2 separate regions of the Homo sapiens genome follow, and region 2 is reported to be linked to region 1. The links are microRNA targets in miRTarBase. Many come from high-throughput screens and were not tested one by one. Region 1 holds a microRNA gene; the other region holds the end of a gene's coding sequence.

The links. The annotated mature microRNA hsa-miR-6823-5p reads UCAGGGUUGGUAGGGGUUGCU and lies in region 1 at 5,134-5,154, shown strand. An mRNA with a match to its seed (bases 2 to 7 or 8) in the 3' UTR can be bound and repressed. Matches are read on the target gene's strand: a 7mer-m8 pairs with bases 2 to 8, a 7mer-A1 pairs with bases 2 to 7 and ends in A, and an 8mer does both.
Region 2: miRTarBase lists ZHX1 as a target of hsa-miR-6823-5p. Seed matches in the 3' UTR shown: 8mer at 3,335-3,342.

The regions. Positions count from the first base shown.
Region 1 is chr3:48,546,494-48,555,149 of GRCh38, reverse strand. MIR6823 (microRNA 6823) reads left to right here and starts at 5,129; the gene lies at 5,129-5,189. PFKFB4 (6-phosphofructo-2-kinase/fructose-2,6-biphosphatase 4) reads left to right here. Exons shown (of 14, transcript NM_004567.4): 2 at 4,916-5,032; 3 at 5,190-5,286. RefSeq lists enhancers at 2,067-2,728, 2,729-3,392, 3,393-4,054, 4,055-4,718.
Region 2 is chr8:123,246,498-123,255,153 of GRCh38, forward strand. ZHX1 (zinc fingers and homeoboxes 1) reads right to left here. Exons shown (of 4, transcript NM_007222.5): 3 at 6,825-8,656; 4 at 1,959-3,823. The coding sequence ends at 6,828. The region is part of intron 2 of ZHX1-C8orf76 (ZHX1-C8orf76 readthrough); the gene reads right to left. Among named protein-coding and RNA genes, the nearest start is that of C8orf76, 9.4 kb to the left of the region's middle. RefSeq lists an enhancer at 4,548-4,757.

The DNA of each region.
Region 1 (8,656 bases):
TGTTATTAGGGCTGTGTGGTCCTGACTTAGGGGGGTGGCTGCTATTACTACATAGGGGAAAGGAGTGAGGACCTGGACTTTTTTTTTTTTTTTTTTTTTGAGACGGAGTTTCACTCTTGTTGCCCAGGTTGTAGTGCAGTGGTCCTATCTCAGCTCACTGCAACCTCTACCTCCTGGGTTCAAGCAATTCTCCTGCCTCAGCCTTCCAAGTTGCTGGGATTACAGGTATGCGCCACCATGGCCGGCTAATTTTGTATTTTTAGTAGGATGGAGTTTCACCATGTTGGCCAGGCTCGTCTTGAATTCGTTATCTCTAATGATCTGCCCCCCTTGGCCTCCCAAAGTGTTGGGATTACAGGCATGAGCTGCCATGCCTAGCCAAGTCTGTGAGCCTTTAAGGAGTAGGTCCTCAATAAGCGGAGGCAGGGTATTCTGTCATCACTACCATTCTTTCTTTGCTTCTCACTACGTCTGAGTCAGGGATTGATGCATCAGCTCCAAGCCAACCCCCGTTACAGGTGAGAGGAAGCTGAGGCCCAATGGGAAGGTCTCATAGCTCCTGAGGCAGGGCTTGTGTTTCTCCAGGCTCTAAGTGTGGAACTGAAATGTGGCTCTGGCCTGAGCTGAGGGGCTCGTGCCATCACGGTGTCTCAGGGTGTTGGGGTAGGCTGGGTTCTAGGTCCGCACTTTTTCCTGGAGGAGGAGGTAGCACCTGAGAGGCCAAAGATGAGACCTGCAGGTTGTTTGGGGATTTGGGCCTCAGGGTTCACAGCAGGGAGTGGGTAAGCAGTGAATGAACATGGAACCCGCCCATGCAGCACCTCCAGCTCCCAGTGCCTGCATTTGGGCAACACTTTACCCTTTGCATAGTAGACTTGTAGGTTGAGTGACTGCAAGGACAGTCTGGACCCGGAGGGTGTGGGTGGGGATGGAAGCGGATTTGGTCCCAGGGCTTTGTGGGGAGGAAGAAGCAGGACCCACTGCTGGTCTGTGCTTTGTACTGGGTTTTCTCTGGAGTCTAGTCCCCAGCTCCTCAGGGCACTAGGGGCTGGTGGACTGAGGGATGTACTGCACCTCCTCCACTCCCACAGGCACGCCCCCGCTTGATAAAATTTAAAGCCACACCTGAGGGCTTGGGAGGCTTTTACCTTTCCCATCATTGGCCTCCGAGCTCAGACCTGGAGGAACTCTGAGGGCAGGTGGGGCAAGAGCTGACTCAAGAAGGACTGCAGAAAGGACGGTGTTTGATGGCTTTTCTCAGCTGAAAGGTGGCAAGACTCTTCCTGGGTAAGGACATGACTGGTGTGTGCACAGGGCAACAGGAGAGATGACTTTCAGTCCCCTCTGAAAAGGGCCTCCATGGCACGTTACTTTATTTTAAAGAGCTCTTCCTTCCCTAGCCTGGCCTAAGGAGGTGAGAGCAGTTGCAGTTCAGGAGTCAATTCTGGCACCCCCTCCAGGGACTTGTGGCTGCTCCTTGGGTAGAAGTAATGGAACATAGACACTGCCCATTGCCAGGCACGTCTCAGGCCCCTTGGGCCCCTTCGCTCCTAGAGCTCATGGGGCCTGCAGCGAATTTACAGGAAAGGAACCCATGAGGGAAGTTGGGCTGACATGTCTTCACATTTCCTTCCGCACATGCTCAATGTTATAAACAGTGTGTTCTTTTTTTTTTTTGGAGACAGTCTTGCTTTGTCCCCCAGGCTGGAGTGCAGTGGCACAATCTTGGCTCACTGCAACCTCTGCCTCCTGTGTTAAAGCAATTCTCCTGTCTCAGCTTCCCGAGTAGCTGGGATTACAGGTGTGCACCACCACACCCGGCTAATTTTTGTATTTTTAGTAGAGACAGGGTTTCACCATGTTGGCCAAGCTGGTCTCGAACTCCTGACCTCAGGTGATCTGCCTGCCTCGGCCTCCCAAAGTGCTGGGATTACAGGCATGTGCCATCACGCCCAGCTATAAACAGTGTATTCTACCATCCTGTTTGCTCAGTGTCAGGGTCCTGTGGGCTCAGAGCCACAGGTGCAGCCGTGCACCCAGCCCGCTTAGTCCACGTGCTCTGTTTTGAGAGCTGCAATGTGTTCCCTCCTTGTTGTGCCTCAGTTGGCAATTTCTTATGGCTGGAATTTCCCAGTGTTTTGCTATGGTAAGCAGAGCTGTTGTGATACACTTGAACTTTGGTTTTCTTTTGGGTCATTTCCTTGGGAGCTTATCTTGGGGAGCAGAGGAGATAGGTAATTTATTGCCTTGTTTTGCACCCAGGCCTGATTTGCTGCCCTGCCTGCCCACCTTGTGCTGCGCATGTGGGTGGAAGGCGGGAAGGGAAATGCCACCAAATGCCATGGGAGGAGGCTGGAGCTGTCTCTGGGAAAATAGGAGATGTGGAGAGGGGGTGCAGATCCCCAGTCCTGAGGTTTTGGGAGTCCCTGAAGGAGCAGTTGGGGGGTGGCCCCATCAGCGGGAGCAGGGTAGATGCAGGATTTCCTCCTGCTTAGCAGCTGTCGCACTGCCCTTGGTTGCTTGAGAGCCCGGCCACCTGGCCGGGAACTATGCAAACAATGCACAATGCGGGCCTCAGCTGTCCACCGGCCCTGAGGAGGCAAGGCCTTGCCTAACTTGTTTTCCTCTCACCTTAGCTAATACTGAGAGTTCTCTGCAAGTTTCTCCACTCTCACTCAGTCAGCCTGTTTCATGGGGTCTCCTCCTTCCCGCCCCTGAGGCTCACCATTTGGGTCACCTTTAAACAAGGGGAATGCACAGGAGTGATGGAGCCCCCACTGGCAAGCAAGGCCCTTTGTTTCTCTGCAGGGCCTGCCTGGGGCCAGGCCACCGCCTCCATGCCCTGAGTCCCAAGGGCAGTCGGTGCCGAGGTACACCTATGGCTTTAGCTCAGTATCCGCCAGGGTAGGACAGAGGGCACAGCTTCCCAGAAGTGCCCAGGCTCTTGGATAGCACTAGGCTTCTCTGAGGGATGACTGCCCCATTTTACAGCTGGGGACACCGAGGCTCAGAGTTCCCAATGAGTGTCAGACTCAAGATGGCAACCCAGGCCTGACTCCTGATCCCCTGCGGAAGTGCTTCTGGGGCCTCTGTGCTCTGAGGGAAACAACTTGTTGGTGGGGACAGTCTGTCTAGGCAACCAGGTGAAGGCACTTGCAGAACCAAGAAGAGGGGCAGTGACAGGTCCCCACATCTGTTCATCTGCCTGTCTGCTATGGTTTTACCTGACCCAGGTCCTAAGGATGAGGAAAAGGAAGCTTCCTGAGGCTTCTGACGTGAGACCGCGTTTGATGGCACTGGAAACTGAGCTGAGGGCTGGGCTCACGCCTGTAATCCCAGCACTTTGGGAGGACGAGGCAGGCAGATCACCTGAGGTCAGGAATTCGAGACCAGCCTGACTAACATAATGAAATCCTGTCTCTACTGAAAATACAAAAATTAGCCAGGTGTGGTGGCATGTGCTTGTAATCCCAGCTACTTGAGAGGCTGAGGCACGAGAATTGCTTGAGCCCGGGAGGCAGAGGTTGCAGTGAGCTGGGTACCAGTGTCCTCCAGCACTCCAGCCTGGGCAAGGGCGACAGAGCGAGACTCCCTCTCAAAAAAAAAAAAAAAAAAAAAAAAAAAAAAAAAGAAGGCTGGAGGTGATGGCTCACACCTGTAATCCCAGCACTTTGGGAGGCCCAGGCAGTCGGATCACCTGAGGTCAGGAGTTTTGAGACCAGCCTGACCAACATGCCGAAACCCCGTCTCTACTGAAAATACAAAAATTAGCCAGGTGTGGTGGCAGGTGTCTGTAATCCTAGATACTTGGGAGGCTGAGGCAGGAGAATCGCTTGAACCTGGGAGGCAGAGGTTGCAGTGAGCCAAGATCGCACCACTGCCCTCCAGCCTGGGCAACAGAGTGAGACTCCGTCTCAAAAAAAAAAAAAAAAAAAGAAAAGTGAGCTAGGTCCCATAAGATGAAGCTGGCAGTTCTGCTGCCTTGGTATCTGTTCTAGCCAGCTGGGAATATAGGGGGCTGTATTCAGATCCTTCCGTGCCTCTAGCCTGGCATCTTCTCTGGCTGGCACACTGACCTGTGGCACATGGATGGTGGTGGGTGGGCTATCAGAGGGACTGTCCTTGTGGGCATCAGTCTGGGTCTCTGGTCTCAACCCCTTGTGGTCCTTACCCTGAGAGACTTCTAGATGCCTCCCTCCCTGATCCTGCCCACAGTTCCTGAGCACCAGCGCTGTGCCAGGCCCCAGGGCCCTAAAGGGCTCAGATACCACAGGGCTTCTTCTGCTGTAAGTGATCAGTCTAGAGAGAAGAGTGTCATTAGTGAGGTGACCAGGATTGAGGGTGAGGGGTGTTCCCGGTGGCCATGGAGATGCCTTGGGGAAAGGACTCATTGAGGAAGTGACTTTTTAGCTGGGCTTTGTATGATGAAAAGAAGTTCACCACAGGGAGGGCATGCAGTGGGGCTATGTGTTCTGGGAGCACTGAGTGATGGATGGGGTGGGAGAGATGTAAAAAGGTTAGGGTATGGATTCCTGGATGACAGAGGCAGGGTGTTGATTACCCTGCTGGGTTTTGGTCCTGTCCTTCATGCGGTGGGGACCCCCCTAGCCATGTTTAGCCAGTGGCAAGTTCGGTTGACTTTATGCCTGGTGGTGCACATCAGGATGAAAAGGGCTGGAGAGATCCCACTGTGTCTGCCAGAGCCCAGGCGGGCCTGGGGAAGGGGGACATGCCAACGGTGGCTTGAAACCAGCATCTGGGGCCACTCCAGGAGCTGTGTGGGGATGCTAGGAAGCCAAGAAGATACGTCTGATGCCAGTCCCATGCCCTGAGGCTGAGAGACCACAGGCTGAGAGGGAGGGGTGCGCTGGGAGGGTCCCAGCCCTCATCTGACACTGTGCTGCTTGCCTTTTAGTGTGCATGACCAACTGCCCAACTCTCATTGTCATGGTGGGCCTGCCCGCCAGGGGCAAGACCTACATCTCCAAGAAGCTGACTCGATACCTGAACTGGATTGGTGTGCCCACTCGGGGTGAGGCTTGGCCCCAGCTGTCTAAGGGGAGCTTTGTGGGGCATGACGAAGAGAATAGAGAAGGCCTATTCTCTATTATTTGGCCTGGGGTTGGGTCAAGGTCAGGGTTGGTAGGGGTTGCTGTTGCTGTGAAAGCTGAGCCTCTCCTTCCCTCCAGAGTTCAATGTTGGCCAGTATCGCCGGGACGTGGTCAAGACCTACAAATCTTTTGAATTTTTTCTCCCCGACAATGAAGAGGGCCTGAAAATCAGGAAGTAAGTATATGTGTTGGGTGTGGGGGGAGAGGTTGCTGGGGGACCCAGTGTGGAGAAAGCTAACACATTACTGACCATTTACTGAGAAGCCCCTGGAGTGGAGCTGCTGGTGAATGACTGAGCTACTCCTGAGCCCTGGCCTTGCCCAGCCCTGATGGCTGTGTGACAGGGCTGTGTGACAAGGCTGGTCTCTGGATCTCTCAGGATGTGGTGGGGGTGGGAGGTGATGGGTTTGGGGATGAGAGGAGAGGGTGTGTTGTGTGGCCTCCTGGTGGCTGGGCCATTCCTGCCCTGGGGTTAAGGAACCCTTGGGAAGGACAGAGCTTCAGGGAGGTAAGAGGGGCTCAGCCCATGCAGGTCGTTGGAGCTGCTGCCTGGAGGTCACGCTCGCTCACCCCAGCGCCCCGTGGGGATGGCTGCTGCTGGGGAAGGGAACCTGAGTGAGTGCAGGCATACAGGCCTTAGGGATGGAGCTGGGGGTGGGGGGCTTCCTCCCTTGCCCCAGGATAAGCTCTCTCCTGTGTATTTGGAGCATGTTCTTGGTGTGTGATTGCTGGTGCGATTGGCTTTGCATTGACATCTCCTAGATGCTGCTGGGTGAGTCGTTCACACTTCTGCTGTTACTCTGGAGATAGAAATATGTATATGCTACCGCCCCACCCTCAACAACTTTCAGACTTGAACTGAGTCCTTTCTTCAAGGAACTGAGCACCAGCTGGTGGTCTGAGCAGCCATGCTGTGCTTTTCTCAGGAGGTGTTAGCTGTGGTCTTGAGAAGCCCCTTATCAACCTAGGGTGGCAGAGACTTGCTCTTGGCCCAGCCATCAGGATAGGGCAGTGAGCAGAGGTTGACCCAGCTCTAGTGACTTCCCCAAATCAAGCCCAGTGGCTACCAGGCTGCCACTGGGGTCCACACTAGGCTACCCGTTCCTTCTCTGGCCACCAGGGGGCAGGAACTCCCTGCTGTGGGGCTTGGACCTTCAGACTGGAGACTGCCTTTGTTCTTGCATCGGTGTGGCTGGGCCAGGCTGTGGCACCAAGAAGGGAAGGGGAGCCTGATATTCAGGTTTCTATGGCCAAATTGTGGGTAAAAATCAAGGCTGGACCCTCTGGTTATATTGAGCCAGATAAAAAGTAGAGGACTAATGTCTGAACCTACCGTGTGCTGGGTTCTTGATGCCCATTGTCACCCCCTACTTTTACAGATGAGGAAACTGAGGCTCAGACAGGCCAGGAGTCTCGCACAAAATAGCAAGTTTACATCAGCGCCCAGACTTGAATCTAAGCCCATCCACCGCTAAAAAGTGTCCATCATTCCAATATTCCTCAATAGGTAGGTCAAGGAACATCAAATGCAAATTTTATTTATTTATTTTAAAAATTATTATTATTTGTGTGTGTGTGTGATGGAGTCTCACTCTGTCGCCCAGGCTGGAATGTAGTAGTGCAATCTCAGCTGACTGCAACCTCCGCCTCCCAGGTTCAAGCAATTCTTCTGCCTCAGCCAACAACCCCAAGCTGTGGACGCTGATAGCCTACTGTCTGATCTTCCCAGCAGCTTCTGTGGTGGGCGGTGCCTCACTTTTCCAGATGCTGGGACCAAGGCCAGAAAGTGATGGGGGTGCCTTGGGTCACTCAGGGTTTGAATTTGAAGTCCGTCCTGCCTGAATCCATAGTGTTTGTGGGGAGAGTCTGCCAGCTGTTCCACTCTGGCTGTCCCCCTAAGGTAGGGATATTTGGGATTAATTCAAATGAAGAGACCTAGACTCAGAGAGGTTGGGAAGCTAGTCCAAGGTCACCCTGCAACAGAAGCTGGGGACAGGCTCATTGCTGCCTTTCTGCAGGCATACCCTCTGGCTGCCCTAGAAACCCTCTCTGCTGTATCCGAATCCTGGCTCTGGCTGGGCCACAGGGCCATCTCCTATTAATCAGCCCAAAATTTCCCAATTAGCAAAATAAAAGGACCAGAGTTTTTAAAATGGAAAACCTGGGAAGAGACAGCTGCATTTCCCAGAGGCCCAGTTACTCACACAGTGTTGAGGTCCATCTCTGACACTGGACACAGCAGAAGATCTAGAAAAGTGCGTGCAAGGCCGGGTGCAGTGATTCACGCCTGTAATCCCAGCACTTTGGGAGGCCGAGGTGGGTGGATCACTTGAGGCCAGGAGTTTGAGACCAGCCTGGCCAACATGGCAAAACCCCATCTCTACTAAAATTACAAAAATTAGCCACATGTGGTGGGGCGCCTGTCATCCCAGCTACATCAGGAGGCTGAGGCATGAGAATTGCTTGAATCTGGGAGGTGGAGGTTGCAATGAGCCAAGATTGCGTCTCTGTGCTCCAGCCTGGGTGACAGAGTAAGACTCTGTCTCAAAAACAAAGTGTATGCAAGGGCATAAGTACACATATTCTAAACAGGCACACTCATACTCCTGCACACAGTCCTATACCACACACAAGCCCCCTATGCACACACACACGTGGGCACATGCATGCATGTGCATACCTCATAGGCACACATCCGGACATGCGTATACCATATGCACAGGGTACATACACATGCACACCCCCTGTGTACACAGTCACGTTATACATAAGGGTATATGTACATGTGTGGGCACCTACACATATAAATACTTGGGCTCACTTAAGCCACACGTAATTCAAGGGCCATTACACACACGAAGGCGCACATGTTCTCACCCTGTATATACACACACACCTGAGCACGCTCATACATGGTGTGTAGGGGGTCCCCAAGACTGCCCTCAGGTTCAGTGATTTGCTAGGGTGACTCCCAGGACTTGGCATATAGCTGGACTCATGGCTAAGACTTAGTACGGCAAAATGACACAAAGCAAAATCAGAAAAAGGGGCCTGGGGTGAAGTCCAGAGGAAACCAGGAGCGAGCATCAAGATTTTCTCCTCATGGAGTCACACAGGACGCACTTAATTCCTCCTGCATTGAACATTGACAACATGTGTAAAATGTTGTCTGCCAGGGAAATTCATCAGAGACTCAACGACCAAGGTTTTTACTGGGGGCTGGTCATATAGGCACCCTGTGCCTAGCATGTACCAAAATTCCAGACTCCCAGAAGGAAAGCAGATAATCAACATAAACCATGTTGTTTGTATAAACAGTCTATGCACAGTGAGCTCCTCTTATAATTCAGGGAAAGTTTCATATCACTAGAGGGAACTGTTTACCATCAAGTTCCCCAACCCTGGCCAAGGGCCAACCTCACAAGCAGGCCTTTCGAAGGGGACCATTCTCATACCTGCTGTGTTAACTCTTCCACACACATGCAGTCACCCACTACACATGAAGGTGGGTGCACACACATATGCATACCTCAGAGTCATGTGTG
Region 2 (8,656 bases), not on the chromosome of region 1:
GGACACACACACACACACACACACACACACACACACACACACACTTCTCTACAGTATGAGACCTGAAACAAGGCAAAGCATCTCTTTGGTTGACCTTTGCTGGGAACATCTTTTTGTTGCCATTCTGTACATGTGCAGGAATGACCAAGGAAGTACTATGAATACTGATTTGGGGGTTACAAATACATTTTAATGTGTAGGCAAATTTGCATATACAGAATCCATAATGAGGATCAACTTATTTGCAAATCATAATACAGACAGTCCCCAACTTATGATGGACTTAAGATGGATTTACTAACACATAATCCCATGGTAACCTAACCCCATAGTAAACTGAGAAACACATGGATTTATAATTTATGATTGTGACCAGGTGCAGTGGCTCATGCCTGTAATCCTGGCACTTTGGGAGGCTGAGGTGGGTGGATCACCTGAGGTCAGGAGTTTGAGACCAATCTGGCCAACATGGTGAAACCCCGTCTCTACTAAAAATATAAAAATTAGATGGGCATGGTGGCGGGCACCTGTAATCCCAGCTACTTGGGAGGCTGAGGCATGAGAATCGCTTGAACCAAGGAGGCAGAGGTTGCAGTGAACTAAGATGGTGCCACTGCACTCCAGCCTGGGCAACAGAGACTCTGTCTCAAAAAATAGTAATAGTTTATGATAGTTCAAGTTTATGGTGAGTTCATCAGGGTATTAAATGGATTTTCAACTTACAAAAATTTTAACTTACAATGGGTTTATCAGGACAAACCCCATTCTAAGTCAAGAAGCAACTGTATCTGATAAAGCTGTAACATCCAGAATATATAAAGAACTAAAACTCAGCAACAAAAAGGCAACCCAATTAAAAACTGGGCAAAGGATTGAACAAACTTTCAATATATTCAAAGGAAGATATACAAATAATTATGTGAAAAGATGTAGTTTTGATTTGCATTTTCCTAATGACATTATCACTCATCATTAGGGAAACACAAATCAAAACCACAATGAGACACCACTTCATACTTACTAGGATGGTTATAATTTTTATTATTTTATTTTTAGAGATGGGGTCTCACTATATTGCTCTCACTGGCCTCAAATACCTAGGCTCAAGTGATCCTCCCACCTCAGCCTCCCTGGTAGCTGGGACTACAGACACAGACCATCGCACTGGGCTTATAATCACTTTTTAAAACTGAAAATGAAAGGTGTTGGCAAAAATGTGGAGAAACTGGAATGCTTGTATATTGCTAGTGGAACGTAAAATGGTACAGATGCTTCAGAGAACATTTTAGCACTGTGGAAGAGTTTGGTGGTTCCTCAACAAATTAAACACAGAATACCACATGATTCAGGAATACTACTCCTTGATATACTCAAAAGAACTGAAAATGGGTACTCAGATCCTTGTATACCAATGTTCACCGCAGCATTATTCACAATTGCCAAAAGGCGGGAAAAAAACAAGTTTCCATCAACAGATACATGGATAAACAAAATGTGTGTGGGAGGAAGTGCACGTGTACAGACAAACACACACACACACACACAATAAAACATAAATCAGCCATGAAAAGAAACAAAGTCTTGATATACGCTAAAACATGGATGAACTTGAAAACATTATAAGTTAAAATAAGCCAGACACAAAAGGGCAAATATTTTAGGATTCTACTTCTTTGAAATATCAAGAATACACAAATTCATAGAGACAAAAAGTAGATTAGAGGTTACCAGGGGCTGGGAGGAATGGGGAGTTATTGCTTAATGGTTCCGAGTTTCTGTCTGGGGTGATGAAAAACTTTTGGAAAAGTGGTGAAGGTGGTGCAGCACTGTGAATATAATTAATGCCATTGAATTTACACTTAAAAACTGGTATAATGGCAAATAGTATGTGATATATATTTTACCACAATGTTTTAAAAATTGACTTTGTTAATAAAATGAAAAAAAAAAGGTCACTGTAAACTACTAATCACTACTTTTATTTTGTATTCAAGGTCACAATCAACCAGAAGAGGGTTCTTTTGCTCTGTCAAATAAATATATTTAAAAGCTAGCAAACGTCAGAGAAGAGTTTTATCAGGCCTATAAAAGAGATGAGGGAAATTAATAGTTATATACAGCTACACAGAGTTAACATATTGCAAGGGAAACAACTATATTCAAAGGCTTCATTTCTAATACTTGACATTTCAAATTTTGAGAACATTAAAATTATTGTCAAACAAAACTCAGACCACATTAGCAATGTTTATAAAAGGGAGCAATTTAATCATTATATTACAGAGTGCTTTAAGAAGTTTTTAAACGTGTAAAAGAAAAAAAAAAAGCTTAGTGCATTACGGTCTTTACATTGCTTCTTTTTTAAAAAAGTTAACAGTAGTATGAAAAAAGCCACCCACAAAGCCAGCTGTCTGAGTGAGGAAATCAGCTACATTGCAGCATTTTGGAATTACTAATAAAGCTATAGTTAAAAAATAAAAAGTTTATAAAAATGAAAGCAGCATGCATATTCAAGGCTTTTTCATAACATTTTCAATGGCTGAAAAACATTTAACCAAGAGCTTAATATTTATTATCCATTAAATTAGAGAAAATAAACTGGCTAAGCCTACATCTGGTCATTCAGAAAAACATGTTAAAATCCAAAGCTAATTAAACTGAACATTTCTTCTACGAAGAAAGCGCATTTTGAAAAATGGTCCTATGGTCACAAAAGAAAGGGTTCTTCCCAATATGAATGAACAGCACCAGTCTTTACAAAGTTTGTAAATTAGTATGAACTTTCAGTCTCCTGATACGGCAAGAGTTAACAGTTAACACTCCCATGATTCATAAGTGAAAAGCTAACTTTTAACTCATTATGATCAGTTCAGAATTTTTTCTCTATTCACTGAAACTGTTATAAAATTTCACTGAAAGATAACTCTTAAAAATTCTGATCTGACACCTGTATAAACATTTCTGATTTCCACGATTGTAAGAAAACACTAAGTATACATTTACTACGTGATTCTTTTTCACATTTTTGGTGCAGTATTTATTTCAAAGCTTCACCCTATCCAAATTACCATGTCAGTTTCTTTTCCTTCTTCAGAATTAATTTCCTGCAGTTTAATAAAAAGCAAATCAGCTTCTAATGGAACAAGTAACAGTAGAAACAGTGGTATTCATGGATGTGTTTAATGAAGGATCCAATTATTAAGGGCCAGTGAAACCATAAAATCTTATTGTTTCAACATATATAAATAGGCTGTTTTTACATTTGAAATTGTATAAGCCCATGCACAACTTTTAATCTTAGTGCAGGGTCTGATAAATAAGACATAGTAATAAATCAGGGTTTTTTTTTTTTTTTTTTTTTTACCCATTTCTAACAATTTTTACTGTAAAATTTTTGGTCAAAGTTCTAAGCTTAATCACATCTCAAAGAATAGAGGCAATATATAGCCCATCTTACTAGACATACAGTATTAAACTGGACTGAATATGAGGACAAGCTCTAGTGGTCATTAAACCCCCTCAGAAAGTCTAAGATTCAGAATGTCTCCATCATATTAGAAGAAAAATGTACTGTATTAAAATTTAAATTGCATTTTTACAAGTTGTTTTTTAATTAGTGTTCTATTTACATTGCAGAACTTCCACCAACTGCAGTAGTTTAACTTTGGCACAACATTAAGTTCCATTTCTTTTGGGTATTGGATCCTGCTTTTTGAGTGTGTATGCCCCAAAACGTTTTCAATGTCATCAAAGATTGGGCAAATTCACAGTAAATCAGACATCTTGAGTTGAAGAATTGATTCTCCTTCAACGTTTTAGGCAGCTAAAAAAGAAAAACATCATAAAAAACTGAAAATTTAAAGAAAACCATATTTTAATTTTTACTACTTTTAGAAATAAAAGTGAAAATACATCTTTTGTATTCTCTTGAGATTACCTGCCACATATGTCTTCCATAATACACTAGGCTTTGTGTGCAACTCATCTATGTATATGTTCTTCATATGCTAGATTTGCTTATAAACATTTATCATCTTTATGTAATAATTTATTTCAAACTGTATGAGCAGGGAGTATATATTTCATTGTCAGTATCTGTAATAAGCAGACTATGAAATCTAAAGACTTGTACTTTTTTCTATTTCTATACAAGGTGCAAAAGATATATATGTACCTCACTTCCTGTAATAACTATTTTGGGAAGGTTTTGGTAACTTTTTTGGTAAATTGAACAATATTTAAATGAAGAAATAACTATTTAGAGAAGGCTATGGTGAATCCTCTTATAAGTGAAAAATTATTTTACTCAGCCAAGGATAACTTGATGTTTCAGAAATTTAGACTTTTGTGTATTTAAAAAGGCATGCTTCTATGCTATCACAAAAGTATATAATATGGTTTGGCTCTGTGTCCCCATCCAAATCTTACCTTGAATTGTAATTATTAAGGGACAGTGATACCACAAAATCTTATTGTTTCAACATATGTAAATAGGCTGTTTTTACATTTGAAATTGTATAAGCCCATACATAACTTTTAATCAGGGAGTGTCGGGGGAGGGAGCCTGGTGGGAGGTGACTGAATCATGGGGGTGGACTTCCCCTCTGGCTGTTCTCATGATAGTGAGTGAGTTCTCAGGAGATCTGGTTGTTTGAAAGTTGTGTGGAACATCCCCTTTCGCTCTCTCTCCTGTTCGGTCATGGTGAGATGTGCTTGCTTCCCCTTCTTCCCCTTCGCCTTCTGCCATGACTGTAAGTTTCTTGGGGCCTCCCAGTCATGCTTCTTGTTAAGCCGGCAAAACTGTGAGTCAACTAAACCTCTTTTCTTCATAAATTACCCAGTCTCAGGTCGTTCTTTATAGCAGTGTGAAAATGGACTAATACAGTGCATGTATAGCATACATCATACAGTCTTTTGAAAACTGTAGTTTTAGGATGAATTTTCTGACCAGAATTAGTATCCATTACAGTGTTAATATATAACATAAGAATTATCTATACAAAATTAAAGGTCAAACTAAACTGTACAGAAAAATTCACATTATTTTTGGAAGACTGCAACTCCCCAAAAAAATCATTGCAGAGGTTACAACAACAACATTCACTGCAGCAACAAATTTGTTGATTTAATCTTGGCTGAGTGCACATTCTTGTGTTTAGCAATAAAAAAAATGCCTGTTAAAAATATTTTATGTATCTGGGTCAGAAGAAAGCCTGCTCTGAAGATTTCTGACATTAGGAAATGGAGGGCTGCACTTCAGGATAAAGCTGTATGAAACTGTTTAACTTCTTATAACCTAAAATGATTACATTATACCCTATAACCTGGAATGATATTTATACTGCTTATTAAAACAGGTACATTTTTAGTTTCATCTGTTATCCCTTAAAAAATATTAACAAGGAGAAAACCTGAAAAAGGATTGCCAAGCAGTAAGAATAGTGCCTGGTACATATTAAGCTCTCTATAAATAATTGTTAAAATAAATAAAACCAGAGAGAAGATGTAAGGGAATTAAGGAAAAACTGCACAGAATAACAGAGCATAAAAGTAGGGGATGGGATACTCATGCAAAAAGCCAAGGAAATAAGTAAGCATGCTCACGTATAAAATAATAATGAGGGTCTACGTCTCATTTCCTTCCTTACTGTTTGAACACAGCAGTCATTTCTGATAGCAAGATGCTATTTGGACTACTGACAGACATACACAAACATTTCATGACAACTGCATTGTTTTCAAAACAGTGTACTTTTACCCCGGAACACTCCAAAACAAAGAATAGCAAAGAATAAAACTATGTTATTAAATTCCAGAAGTATTAAGAATTCAATTCCTAACTCCAAAGCAGGTATCTGATTTGCAACTACAGTTCAACTTTAATTAATCCAATTTATAAAAGAACTAAGATTTAAGGAACATGCCAAAACCTTTCAAATTTAAGCCATATTTATTTGCATTTTTAAGACTACAGAGATATACTTTAAATCAAATACAATGTTAGTGCTGGTAGCAGGTTTGTTTTATACCAAAGAATGAAAAGATATTTTAAGCAATTGGGTTTATATCAAATCTGTTATTTGCCTTTTGATCTCTAAAACAGAAATAATTTATATCACAGTTTTCAAAGACAGATGCCGCCTAAGCAAACATGAATTTATATATGGCCTAAAACAGACCTTTGACTTTTAACAGAAAAAGATATTGAGTAATTTTATAAATTACTAAAAAGATACTGAGTAATTTCATAAATACATAAAGCATTTTAAACTCTAGTTAAAAGTCTAGTAAAGTTTTGGGAGCAATGCAATGAAGATGAAAAGATACCCATTTTCACCTAGTTTCCTAAAACTGCACAATCCTCAACCCTGTGGTAAGTCTTTCCTTTGGTGTACTTTTCCCCTTCTTTTTAGTTTTCATTTTTGAATTATTTCCTTAAATAGGCAAAAAATGAAGCTTTAGTGAAGGGGGCATTGCAATAAAATACATTTTAGTTATCTTTAGTATTTGTTTGTGAATCCCCTCAACCTGCCTGCCAGTCTCCCTTCATAGAGATTGGGTAACTTTCCTTCAAAACAAAGTAAAAAAAACCCAATTCATATGAAAAATAATAATTAAGACATTAAACTCTACATAATAATAATAAAACTACACATGATAATCATTTATCTCTTAGCTATACTAGTGGTACCTAGTCTTATTAGGGAAAAGAAAAACTACTTCAGAAAATATCAAAAATGAAGATGACTGATACAACAAGGTGACTGTTCAAAATGTATGTGGTTGATGAACATATACGCAGATTAAAAATTTTCTTAACTTACATTTCAGTCATCTGATTTAGACAGCTTCCGTTTCACATGTCGTGGAGGTTCCCAAGTGTCACTATCATCTGTTTCTTCTTCATCCTCTTCCTGGTCATCAATAACTTCATCTTCCTCCTCATTTTCCTCAAATAATTCTATACCTAATTCTGATCTTCTCTGTCTTTCTGCAAACCACTCTCTGACCTGCTCATAGCCCATATGTGATTTGTTAACAAGTTCATCAAGGTCTTGCTCATTAAGAAACTTGTGCTTCAGGTAATAATCCTTAAGTATTGCAGTTCCAGTTTTAAATTTTATGAGTGATGGTCCCCTGTCCCAGTTGTTAATTCTTTTGCTTCCTCTAGGCCGCCCACGCGGTCTTCCTCTTCCCCGTCCTTTGGGTCTCCCTCTCCCTCTTTTCCTAAGGGAAGACAGACCATTCATACTACTTGAATTGGCGCTCTGATAGTAGTAGTACCATTTCAAGTTTCCATTCTTCCAAGCATAACGGGTGTCCCCAAACCAACTAACTATGTCTGTTCTAGCAAGCCCGCTTTCTTTGGCCAACTTGTCATACTCTTCTGGTGATGGCCACTGTGTCCGGACAAATGCACTCTTAAGCATGTGCAGCTGCTCAGGTGTTTTTTTACATATCTTGCCTGTACTCCCTGACTTAGGTGCACCAGATTCATCTGCAGGAGAAGTTTCTCCAGCTTCTTCTTTGGAACTACCTGCATTACTTTCATCTATTTCCATTTTCTCTTCCTTTAAAGCTTTTGATTTCTTCTTCTCTGTAAACCAAGCATCGATTTCTCTTCTGGTAAGTTTGGTTTGTGCCCTTAACCTATTTAATTCTTCATCTGTAAGTACAGAGCTGTTGAGAAAACTTGCCTGAAGGACACGAAGCTGCTCTGCAGTTTTCTCTTTAAACTTTTGGGGAGTAAAGTCAGGAAAAGGATTCCAGGATTGCTTAGGCTGTGCAGTACCAACAGTTGGGGATTCCGTGGTTTCATCACTGGAGTCTATAATAATGGTGGTAGAGGAATCATTGTTGAGATGTAAGCACTGATTACTCTTTGAATTTCTCTGGTTGTACCTTGTGTCACTAAACCATTTTTTAATCTCTCCTTTCGTCAGGCCTGTTATTTTCATAAGTCTGATAATTTCTGAATCATGGGGAAACTGATTTTTAAGGTAGCTAACTTTTAATTCTGCCAGTTGCTCTTTTGTCTTTTTTGCCCGAATGCCAAATGAATCAGGGTTTACCAATGCAGTTTCATGTTTGACACTTTGAGAAGTTGGAACTGCTGCTGTTGCTGGCTTTGTTTCTGCAGTAGGCTGAGCAGCAGGTACCTGACTTTTCTGTATATTATTTTGACTTGGAACGCCTGCCACTGTCAAGGCTATAGGTGCTGTAACTGGCAAGGTGTTTGTTCCAGCCACTTGAGTAAGGACCAGACCAGGCTGACCAACTATTTGGCATGTCTGTAAAATAGATGGTAAACCATTACTCCCTGTGGAAATGTGTGTAGGAATAACAGTTATGGTCTGAGGTACAGTATGCACTGTTCCATTGAATTGTTTCCTTCTTGCCTCCTCTACTTCCTCGGGAGTCCAACTAACACCATGTTTTAAACGTTGGGCTGAAAACCATATCTTGATCTGTTCCTCTGTATATTTTGCTTGAGCAGAAAGAACTGTAATTTCTGACATTGTTGGGTAAGGGAACTTGTTGTAGGTGTTAAGTAAAAGGGGATTGTTATCCAATGCAGCATTGTAGGTGGGAATGCTATTAACAGGGATTAAGACTTTGGGAATCAAATTAGAATTCTGCTGAGCAGATACAGCAG